Regions from separate parts of the Homo sapiens genome. Here region 2 is linked to region 1. The links come from fine-mapping of genetic effects on gene expression. A gene starts in region 1. The other region holds a variant in brackets. All regions are shown on one strand. Distances are from middle to middle.

The links. PIP is the estimated chance that this variant, and not a neighbour inherited with it, causes the effect. A credible set is the group of variants that fine-mapping cannot tell apart.
Region 2: its variant is the best candidate, but not a certain one, in a credible set for the expression of C12orf43 in whole blood (INTERVAL, PIP 0.52).

The regions. Positions count from the first base shown.
Region 1 is chr12:121,013,827-121,019,201 of GRCh38, reverse strand. It overlaps C12orf43 (chromosome 12 open reading frame 43), which reads left to right and starts at 2,715. Exons shown (of 6, transcript NM_022895.3): 1 at 2,715-2,872. The coding sequence starts at 2,728. OASL (2'-5'-oligoadenylate synthetase like) reads left to right here. Exons shown (of 6, transcript NM_003733.4): 6 at 1-91. RefSeq lists a silencer at 2,619-2,812 and enhancers at 2,540-3,049, 3,021-3,536.
Region 2 is chr12:121,040,731-121,046,105 of GRCh38, reverse strand. No RefSeq gene overlaps it. Among named protein-coding and RNA genes, the nearest start is that of OASL, 4.2 kb to the right of the region's middle. The variant TTTTTTTTTTTG/G (reference allele first, on the strand shown) is at 2,327.

The DNA.
Region 1 (5,375 bases):
TCTTTGTGTCCTTCATAATGCCCAGCACAGCCCACATTGTAGGTGGTGGGAAAATTCTTGTTTAAAATAAAAAAAAGAATGAAAAATGCAATGTCTTAGTCCATCTGGGCTGCTAAAACAAAATACCATACACTGGATGGCTCATGAACAATAACCATTTATTTCTTACAGCTCTGGAGGCTGGGAAGTCCAAGTCAAGACACTGGCAGATTTGGTGTCTGGTGAGGACCTCTTCCTGATTCACAGATGGCAGCTTCTCACTAAGTCTTCACATGGTAGAAGAGGCAAAGGTGTCTCTAGGATCGCTTCTTTTTTTTTTTTTTTTTTTTTTTGAGATGGAGTCTCGCTCTGTCACCCAGGCTAGAGTGCATTGGCATGATCTCAGCTCCCTGCAACCTCTGCCTCCGAGGTTCAAGCGATTCTCCTGCCTCAGCCTCCCGAGTAGCTGGGACTACAGGCACCTACCACTGTGCCCAGCTAATTTTTTTTTTATTTTTAGTAGAGACGGGGTTTCACCATCTTGGCCAGGCTAGTCTCGAACTCCTGACCTTGTGATCCACCTGTCTTGGCCTCCCACAGTGCTGGGATTACAGTTGTGAGCCACCATGCCTGGCCTCTGGGGTCTCTTTTATGAAGGCATTGATCCAGTTCATGAGGGCTCAGGACCCATTATGTAATTGAAAGATTCTCCGTGGGGCCTGAAAGCTTAAGAGAATGAATGACCCCTCCCTCCCCTCCCTCCTTGGGCCCGGTCCCAAGGCGCAAGGCCACTCGCGCCAGCAGCATGTGTCAGCAAGATAGCAGAAGCGGGAAGAGAGCGGGCCAGAAGACACCTACCCCCTGAAGACCGAGAGAGACGTCATCCGGGTACAATGTAGCGGTTACAACAGACTGAGAAACTTCCTGTTTACAGGAGACTACAAAACCCCTGCCCCGTCCTCATTTGGTGCTGACGCCATTTTAAGCCTCAGCCCACCTGCACACACACTGCCTCATGTTGTCTGTTGGCCACGCTCTTGGGGTTCGAACCAACACAAGACCCTTTCACTAATTACTTCCCAGAGGTCCCACCTCCTAATACCATCACCTTGGGAGTAAGGACTTTTTGGAAATTATCAGTATCAAAATGGAGTCACTTATGTCAAACCCTAACAAATGCCTGTCACAAAAATTATCTCAAGAAGTTCCTAAAATCCGCAGTATTATAGATAAACCACTTGCATAAGAATATTTGCCTAACAGTGGGTGTCTCCACAATAAGCTAAAGCCAACTCCTGCAACAGGCTCCTGTGATCAACGGTACTTGTTTTAAAGAAGCTTATGTGGACTTTGTCTTTTCTCGTTGCCACAACCTCTTTTAATGTGCCTATAGTCCACTATAGCATGCATATCTCAAATTGCAATTCCTTGCAATTCTGGAATAAACGCTTTATTTTGGAGAGTCAGTCTCTCTGTTATTTATTTTATGGTGTCAATTTTAACATATGAATTTTGGAGGAACACATTCAGACCATATCAGTCACCTTCCTCTTCTTTGAAATAGAAAAAGCTCAAGGCCAGAGAGTTTATTTTAGTAAAGTTTTGACATACCTGTCTTCAAAGATAAAACATGAAACAGCATTCCACACACAAAAGTAAAGTGATTTTGTTCATCCTTCACTGTGAGGTATTTTAACCACAGAGATTCTAATTTTTTGGTCTTGGATGGGTCCTGGGAGTCAGTATTGCCTGGCTAATTTTTGTATTTTTAGTAGAGATGGGGTTTCACCATGTTGGTCAGGCTAGTCTCGAACTCCTGACCTCATGATCTGCCCGCCTCGGCCTCACAAAGTGTTGGGATTACAGATGTGAGCCACCGTGCCCGGACAGGATTCTGCATTTCTCTTTTTTTTTTTTCGAGACAGAGTCTCAGTCTGTTGCCCAGGCTGGAGTGCAGTGGCACGATCTTGGCTCACCTCAACCTCCACCTCCCAGGTTCAAGTGATTTTCCTGCCTCAGCCTCCTGAGTAGCTGGGACTACAGGTGCGTGCCACCATGCCCAGCTAATTTTTGTATTTTTAGTAGAGATGGGGTTTCACTATGTTGGCCAGGCTGGTCTCGAACTCCTGACCTTGTGATCTGCCTGCCTCAGCCCCCCAAAGTGTTGGGATTACAGGCGTGAGCCACCGTGCCCAGCCTGGATTCTGCATTTCTAACGAGCTCCCAGGTGTTACCAATGCTGCTGGCTCATGGACTACACTCTTAAGTAGTAAGGCCCTAGGCTATTAAAGGAAATACAGATTCCTGGATTCCACCTATCAGAGATTCTGATTCTGTTAGTATTTTCTGTGAGACCCAAAAGTCTGCAGTTTAACCAGCTCTCTAAGGTGTTTCTTAGGCCCAGCTGGACTGGGAAATTACTAGAATAAATGACATGGAATCAAAACCTGGGAACTAATCCTGGGTCTGTCATTAACTCCTTAGGAGATTCCCATCCCCTCTGGAGATCTGTCATCAAGAAATGATTGGAGAAGTTAATCTCTTAGGCCCTTCTAGCTCTTGCCTTTGAGAACCGCCCACCTCCCCATTCCCACCTGGTATCCCCAACCCAGTACAGTTCATGGCCAATGGCGGTCCAAGTCTTGGAACTACAATCCCCACAATGCCTCGCGCCTCTCCTCTCACGTGACGTCATGAAGGAGGCTTGATAACGGCGGTGTTCTCCACAATCCTTTGCGGTGGTTCAAGATGGCGGCGCCCAGTGGCACAGTGAGCGATTCGGAAAGTAGTAACAGCAGTAGCGATGCGGAGGAGCTGGAGCGGTGCCGCGAGGCGGCAATGCCGGCTTGGGGCTTGGAGCAACGCCCGCACGTGGCAGGGAAGCCAAGAGCCGGTAGGGTACTATGTTTGGGGAGACTGGCTGAGGGGCGTGGGATCTTCCCCTGGAGCCTGAGAGGATGGATGGTGAGGAGAGAGTCACTGGGACTCGGCTTCCTTCCCCGAGAGACCTCCAGGGACTGGGTGTAGTGCAGATTGAAAGCATGGGCAGGTGCAGTAGGGAGGGTATTTCATTATTCCAGTCGGGGAAGCTGAGGTACCCAAATGTCTTTTGATTCTGCCTCCTTGGGTCTATCCTCACTGCCCCACACTGGGAAGGCTGCCGTCTCTTCGAGATAACTGCAACAGCCCCCTCCCGGTATTCTCGCACCCAGCCTTTCCCCACCTCCAACACATTCTCCCACCCTGGAGGTTGTTGCCAAGAGCAGTGCCCAGCACATCACTCTGACCGTGACTCCCTAGTGCCCTGGGAATAAATACAGAGCCCCGCAACATCAAGGGGCCTAATCATGGATAGAACCCAAGGGTTCTTGAATTTGGAATGAAAACATGTTGCATCTTTGCTTTCTATTCATCTCTGACTGAATTTTAGCATCTCTTTCCGTCTTGCAAGCACTAAGCCACAGTAGTTCTGGCAATGCCGTTACTTTATCCCAACAGAAGTCACAGATTTTCATATCTCATTACAATCTTTGCAGATACAGATATCAATATATCATTTTATTGATAAAAAGATATTGGGGAAAAAAGTCATTTACACTCATCCCTGATTTAAAATGTGCCACTCTAATTTTTAGACCCATCTCTATATCTAAGATGTAAGAAGCACATACATCACAAGTTTGGTTGTTTACTATCATGATAATTAAATTTCGGTATCATTGGTTTTCTTTGTAATCCTGTATGTTGCATTTCATGCATTTAAAACATTGCTCTGAGAAGAGAACCGGGCTTCACCAGGCTGTTAGAGAAGGCTATGGCAAAGCAAGGTTAAGAACCGCTGGATTTGTTTAAAAGGACTTACAAGCCCTTTGGTGATCCATTGCCTTCCTCTCCCTTCCTTCCCTCCTGCCATACTGCACTTCCTGTAGGTAGCTTCCAGACCATAGTCTGCCCCTCTCACCCCCTAGTACCATAACCACAGTTTTCTCTGCAAGTTCTATTTACAGATCTGCCTTTCCATCTCATTAGCGGTGGGAACTTGAGCAAAGTACTTAAATCTCACTGTACCTAAATTTCCTCATCTGTACAGTGCGGGTAGTGATAGTACCCACCCCATAAGGTTGAGAAGTAACTGAGATAATGCAATCTACAGTGCTTGGCACATCTTAAAGGCCCAATACATGGTGGCAAATATGTGGTTGGTCTTTCCACATGGACTGCTTTCCTCCTCCTGCCTAATTCTCGCTCTTTTTTTTTTCAAAACTAGGACTCAGTCTGTTACCGAGGCTGACACAATCATGGCTCACTGCAACCTCGACCTCCCCCTACTCAGATGATCCTCCCACCTCAGCCTCCCAAGTAGCTGAGACTACAGATGTATAGTCCCAGCTACTTTTTGTATTTTTTGTAGAGATGGGGTTTTGCCATGTTGCCCAGGCTGGTCTCGAACTCCTGGGCTCAAGTGATCCTCCCTTCTCAACCTTCAAAGTGCTGAGATTACAGGTGTGAGCCACTGTGCTCGGCTTCTAGTTTTTTTTGTTTGTTTGTTTGTTTTTTGGGGTTTTTTTTTTTTTTTTGCATTTTTTTTTTTTGAGATGGAGTTTCACTCTTGTTGCCCAGGCTGCAGTGCAATGGCACGATCTCAGCTCACTGCAACCTCTGCCTCCTGGGTTCAAGTGATTCTCCTGCCTCAGCCTCCCTAGTAGCTGGGATTACAGGCGCCTGCCACCACGCCCAGCTAATTTTTTGTATTTTTAGTACAGACAGGGTTTCACCGTGTTGGCCAGGCTGGTCTCAAACTCCAGACCTCAGGCAATCCACCTGCCTCGGCCTTCCAAAGTGCTGGGATTACAGGTGTGAGCCACCGCGCCTGGTCTCTTTTTTTCTTTTTGAGACGCAGTCTCGCTCTGTTACCAAGGCTGGAGTGCAATGGCGCGATCTTGGCTCCCTGCAACCTCCGCCTCCCAAGCTCAAGCAATTCTCCTGCCTCAGCCTCCTAAGTAGCTGGGATTACAGGTGCCCACCACCAGGCCCAGCTAATTTTTTTTTATATTTTTATTAGAGACAGGGTTTCACCGTGTTGGCCAGGCTGGTCTCGAACTTATGACCTCAGGTGATCCGCCCACCTTGGCCTCCCAAAGTGCTGAGATTACAGGCATGAGCCACCACACCCAGCCTAGATTACATTCTTGAGTGCGTCTAGTAATAGCCACCAGGAGTTGAGAATTTTCTTTTTGCCCCTGTTCTAAACACTTTGTATTTGTTGTCTGTTTTCATCTTCCCAGCAATGCCACAAGAGGGTGTATTAGCCCCATTTTACAGAAAACTGATTCTCATAATGGTAAAATAACTTGGCCAAGGTTGTCCAATTTGTGAGTGGCAGAACCAGGCGTAAA
Region 2 (5,375 bases), 27 kb before region 1:
GCCCCTCTTCTACCTCTCAGATGGACAATTTTTTCTTTTTTTAAACAGGGTCTCACTCCCTTGCCCAGGCTGGAGTACAGTGGAGTGATCAGGGCTCACTGCAGCCTTGACTTCCCACATTCAGGAGATCCTCCTATCTCAGCCCTGTCTGAGGTAGCAAGACCCCATCTCTACAAACAATTTTCTGAAAATTAACCAGGCATGGTGCCTGTAGCTCTACCTACTCAGGAGGCTGAGGTGGGAGGATCACTTGAGCCTAGGAGTTCGACACCAGCTTGGGCAACATAGTGAGACCCTGTCTCAACAACAACAACAAAAAACAATTTAAAATTAGCCAGGTGTGGTGGCTTGTGCCTGTAGTCCCAGCTACTCAGGAGGCTGAGGTGGGAGGATCACTTAAGCCCAAGAGGTCGAGGTTATAGTGAGTTGTGATCATGCCACTGCACTCCAGCCTGGGCGAATGAGCAAGACAACATCAAAAAAAAAAGGAAGAGAAAAGAGAGAGAGAGAGATGACAGAAAGAAAGAGAAAGAAAGGAAGGAAGGAAGGAAGAAAGAAAGAAAGAAAGAAAGAAAGAAAGAAAGAGAAAGAAAGAAAGAAGAAAGAAAGAAAGAAAGAAAAAGAGAAAGAGTTCCTCAGATTGGCTTTCTCTGCTTCCTAATCCCCCACACTTACCCCTTGAGATCATTTCCCAGAACAAACCACCTTCATGCAACCCCTTGTCTCATGCTCTGCATTGAGGGGAATCCAAGCTAAGACAACACTCATCTTTGTGTCTCTTTCTCCTGCTCAAAACCTAGCTCAGCCCCTTCCTATCCACTGGCTCTTCTCCCTCCCTGCAGATGCCTGCTCAACTGGGTGGTATTTTAACAAACCATAAAACCAACACATTACTGATTTCATGTTCCCTTTTGAAATCCTCAAATGTCATCCAACATATTAATGATCAAATAATTGAAAGCTATGTAACCCTCAGAGATTTCACGAAGTCGAATAAAAAACCAATAGGTTAAGGTCTGAATGTTTATTGTTTGAATAACTTCTATATTGCCTTGAAGTTCATTGTCAGTCATCGTAACCATATGGCAAATGTTTGGAGTCTTAACCGGTTGTTGACTTAGCTTTGTGAAATTGTCACTGCTCTTTAAATCCTCATAATATGGTATTGCTGAAGGATCAGGTACTACCAAACACTGGAAATATAAGAACTTTTATAATTTATGTAATTAAAATATGTGATGCTTTCCACTTGGGGTTAGCCAGTTTGAAAAGTTAAATTGGAATGTGTCATGATGGACAAACTCCTTGAAAGAATCATCTGCACTTCTGGTCTCCATGCCCCCGACCCCACCCAGCCTAATCTGGCTTCAGCTCCCTCCTCTCGCCTAAAACTGTGCCCACCTTGATCACCAGTCGTTTTCTTGAGTACTTTTCAGGTCTGTATTTCTTAACTTTTCAGAAGCATTCAGCAATGTGGGTGACTTTTTTTTAACTCTGGTTATGCCCACCTCTTTGGCCACCCCAGCAGGTACCGCCTAAATTTCTCTTCCTCTGCTCATCACTTAAATTTGGGGCTTGGCCAGGCATAGCAGTTCATGCCTGCAATCTCAGCACTTTGGGATGCTGAGGTGGGAGGATTGCTTGAGCCGGGGTTCGAGGCTGCAGTGAGCTATGATTGCACCACTGCTCTCCAGCCTGGGAGATGGAACGAGACTCTGTCTCTACATTAGTTCATTTTGGTGTGATTCATTCTTCCCCAAGGTACCAGTGACCACGTGTATACTGAGGGAAATCAAATATGTCTTTACATGGAGCAGGTCACTCGCTTCTCATCCTTGGGTACTACCAAATCATTATCCAAAATGCACCCCTCGAACTCCCCACAGCCATACCCACTCCTCCTTCTCTCCTTGGGAATGGTGGCTCCAACAGTTACTCAAGGACACAAGCCAGAGAGCTGGGAGTCATCCCTGTCTTCTCCTTGCCCCTCACCTATAGTCAACAAGAAGCCCTGCCCACCCTTCTTCCAAAATAGACCTAGAATCCAACCCCTCTTCTCCACCTGCACTGCTTCCAGCCTTGTCTTGGGCCTCACTGCTTATCACCTGCACCCCTGCGAAGTGTCCTAATGCATTTCCCTGCATCTGCCCTTGCCCTCTGCGGTTCGTCCTCACCATGGAAGCAGCCAGACCAATCTTAACTCCACTACATGCCACTCCCCTAAATTTGCCACTGCCCTCAGGACAAAAAGCAGATTCACCTGGCACTCTTTTAACCCAGTGGATCATTTCCATTTCTTCTTCTTCTTCTTCTCCTTTTTTTTTTT[TTTTTTTTTTTG/G]AGACAGGGTCTCACTCTGTCACCCAGGCTGGAGTGCAGTAGCATGATCATGGCTCACTGCAGCCGCGACCTCCCTGGACTGAGGTGATCCTCCTACCTCAGCCTCCTGAGTAGCTGGGACTATGGGCACTCACCATCATACCTGGCTAATTTTTGTATTTTTTTGTAGAGATGGGGTTTTGCCATGTTGCCCAGGCTGATCTTGAATTCCTGGGCTCAAGCGATCCTCCCATCTTGACTTTCAAAGTGCTGGGATTTCAGGTGTGAGCCACCATGCCCATCCCATTTCCTCTTTCTTAAAACAATATCTTCACTTGGCCTTCAAACCATCACTCCTGATTTCTCTTCCACCTCACTAGCTACTTCTTTTCCTTCTTCTTTGCTGGACTCGTGCAACTCCCTAAACTCCGAATAATATTAAGTGCTCTGGGGCTCAGTCCTGGGTCTTTTTCTCTTCCTGCTGTGTCATCACTCCCTTGGTGATCTCATTCAGTGTCATGGCTTTAAACATCCCTATGCCGGTGACCCCCACATTTTATCTCAAGTCCAGACCTCCTCCCTGTAATACAGACTCGCATATCCAACTCCCCACCACATATCTCCACCTGGGTCTCTGACAGACACCCCAAACTTCAGTTCCAAAACTGAGTTCCTTCCTCATCTCCATGCCCAGCCTATCCCACCTCAGTTAAGGGCAGTTCAACCTTTCTGTTGCTAAGGCCAAAAGCCCCGGACTTAGACCTTGACTCTGATCTTTCTCTCTCATCATACTCTACCCATTAGCAAGACCTGTCAGCCTTGGAGTCAAAATATATCCAGCGGAATGACATGATGTCCAGATTCACTTCCAAATAACACAGTAGGGAATCTAGGGATGGGGGTAGAATTGAAACCAGACTGTCTATAAGTTGATCATTGTTGAAACTGGTGATGGTACATGGAGGTTCATTGTATTATTCCACTTTGTTTGAAATGTTCCAAAATCAGAAAAATTAAAACATACTATTTCACTGCTACCACTCTGATCCAAGTCAACTGACCTCTTGCCTGGACTGTTGCAGTAGCCTCCTAACCATACTTCTGCCTCCACTTTCACCTCCACTCCACCCTCTGCTTCTAATTTAATTTCCTCCCAGCAGCCAATGTGATTAATTCCATTAAAATGAAAGACCGTGTCACTCCTCCACTCAAAACTCTCCAATGTATGGTGTCAGACTCCTACAGAACAACAAAAAATGCTCCCCAGTGGTTCCCCATTTCATTCAGAGTAAAGCCAACTCCTAACAGTCGTCTTCAAGATCCTATCCACTCCTGCTCCTTGTTTATGGAATAAATCTTTTTAAAAAGATCTTATATCCTGGCTGGGTGCGGTGGCTCACGCCTGTAATCCCAGCACTTTGGGAGGCCGAGGCGGGTGGATCGCCTGAGGTCAGGAGTTAGAGACCAGCCTGGCCAACATGGTGAAACACCGTCTCTACTAAAAGTACAAAAATCAGCTAGGTGTGGCGGTGGGCACCTTGAATCCCAGCTGCTCAGGAGGCTGAGGCAGGAGAATCGCTTGAACCTGGGAGGTGGAGGTTGCAGTGAGCCGAGATTGTGCCATTGCACTCTAGCCTGGGCAACAATTGTGAAACTCCATCTCAAAAAAAAAAAAAAAAAGGATCCTGTATCTATTTGCCTTGCCACCCTTTACTACTTAAACCGCATTCCCTTCCACTCTCTGCTCTTGATCACTCCGTTCCAGGCACACTGATGTTCCTTATACTTGCCACCGGGCAGTACCACCACAGGGTCCTCGTACTTTCCACTCCTTCTGCCATGAAGAATCTTCTTCCTTCTGTTACACACGTGGCTCACTCTACCTTCTTTTTTTTTTTTTTTTTTGAGACGGAGTCTCGCTGGAGTTCAGTGGTGCAATCTTGGCTCACTGCAAGCTTTGCCTCCTGGGTTCACGCCATTCTCCTGCCTCAGCGTCCCGAATAGCTGGGACTACAGGTGCCTGCCACCACGCCCGGCTAATTTTTTGTACTTTTAGTAGAGATGGGGTTTCACCGTATTAACCAGGATGGTCTCGATCTCCTGACCTTGTGATCCACCCGTCTTGGCCTCCCAAACTCTTCACCTTCTTATGTCTTTGCTCAGATGTCTCCTTTTCAGGGAGGCCTTCCCTAATCACCTTATGTAAGACTGAAACCTAAATACATGCCCCCAACACACACACACACACACACACACACACACACACACACACACACAACCTCTTAATCCCTTCTCTTGCTTTGTTTTTCTGCTTAGCACTTATCACCGTCTTCTTTACTATAATTTTACCTATTTATCCTATTTGTTGTTTGTCTCCACTACCAGAAAGAAAACTATCTGCAGGTAGGGATTTTTCACTACTGTTTGTTCACTGTTGTATCCACAGCACCTGCCTGGCACAGAGTAGGTGCCCAGTAAGTATCTGTTGAATGAGTGAACGAATGAGTGAATAGCACTCCAAGATTCAATCCTGCCCACCTGTCCAGGTACATTTCTAACCTCTCCCCTGCTCACCCTTTCATCCCAAGGCACACAGCACACTTGAGTCCCTGGCATATCCTAGCATTATTTATACTTCTCAGCCTCTATGCTGTACCCTCATCCTCCTGGCTGGAGTGCCAGTCTTTTTTATTTTTTATTTGGAGACAGAGTCTCATGCTGTCACCCAGGCTGGAGTGCAGTGGCACCATGATAGTTCACTGCAGCCTGAAACTCCTAGACTCAAGTGGTCCTCCCACCTCAGCCTCCCAAGTAGCTGGGGCTACAGGTGGACACCACCACACCTAGCTATTTTTTAAAAAACTTTTTGTTTTTAAAACAAAAACTGGAGTTTTAAACTCCAGGCCACCACTGCCTCTCACCTGCACCACTGTGCAGTGTCCTGACCATCTCCCTACATCTGTTCTTGCCCTTGCAATCATCCTCACCACAGAAGCAGAGAAGTTACAAGTGTGGCAAAGGGCAGACCGGAATTCAAAGCCAATGTGGAGTGGGGAGTT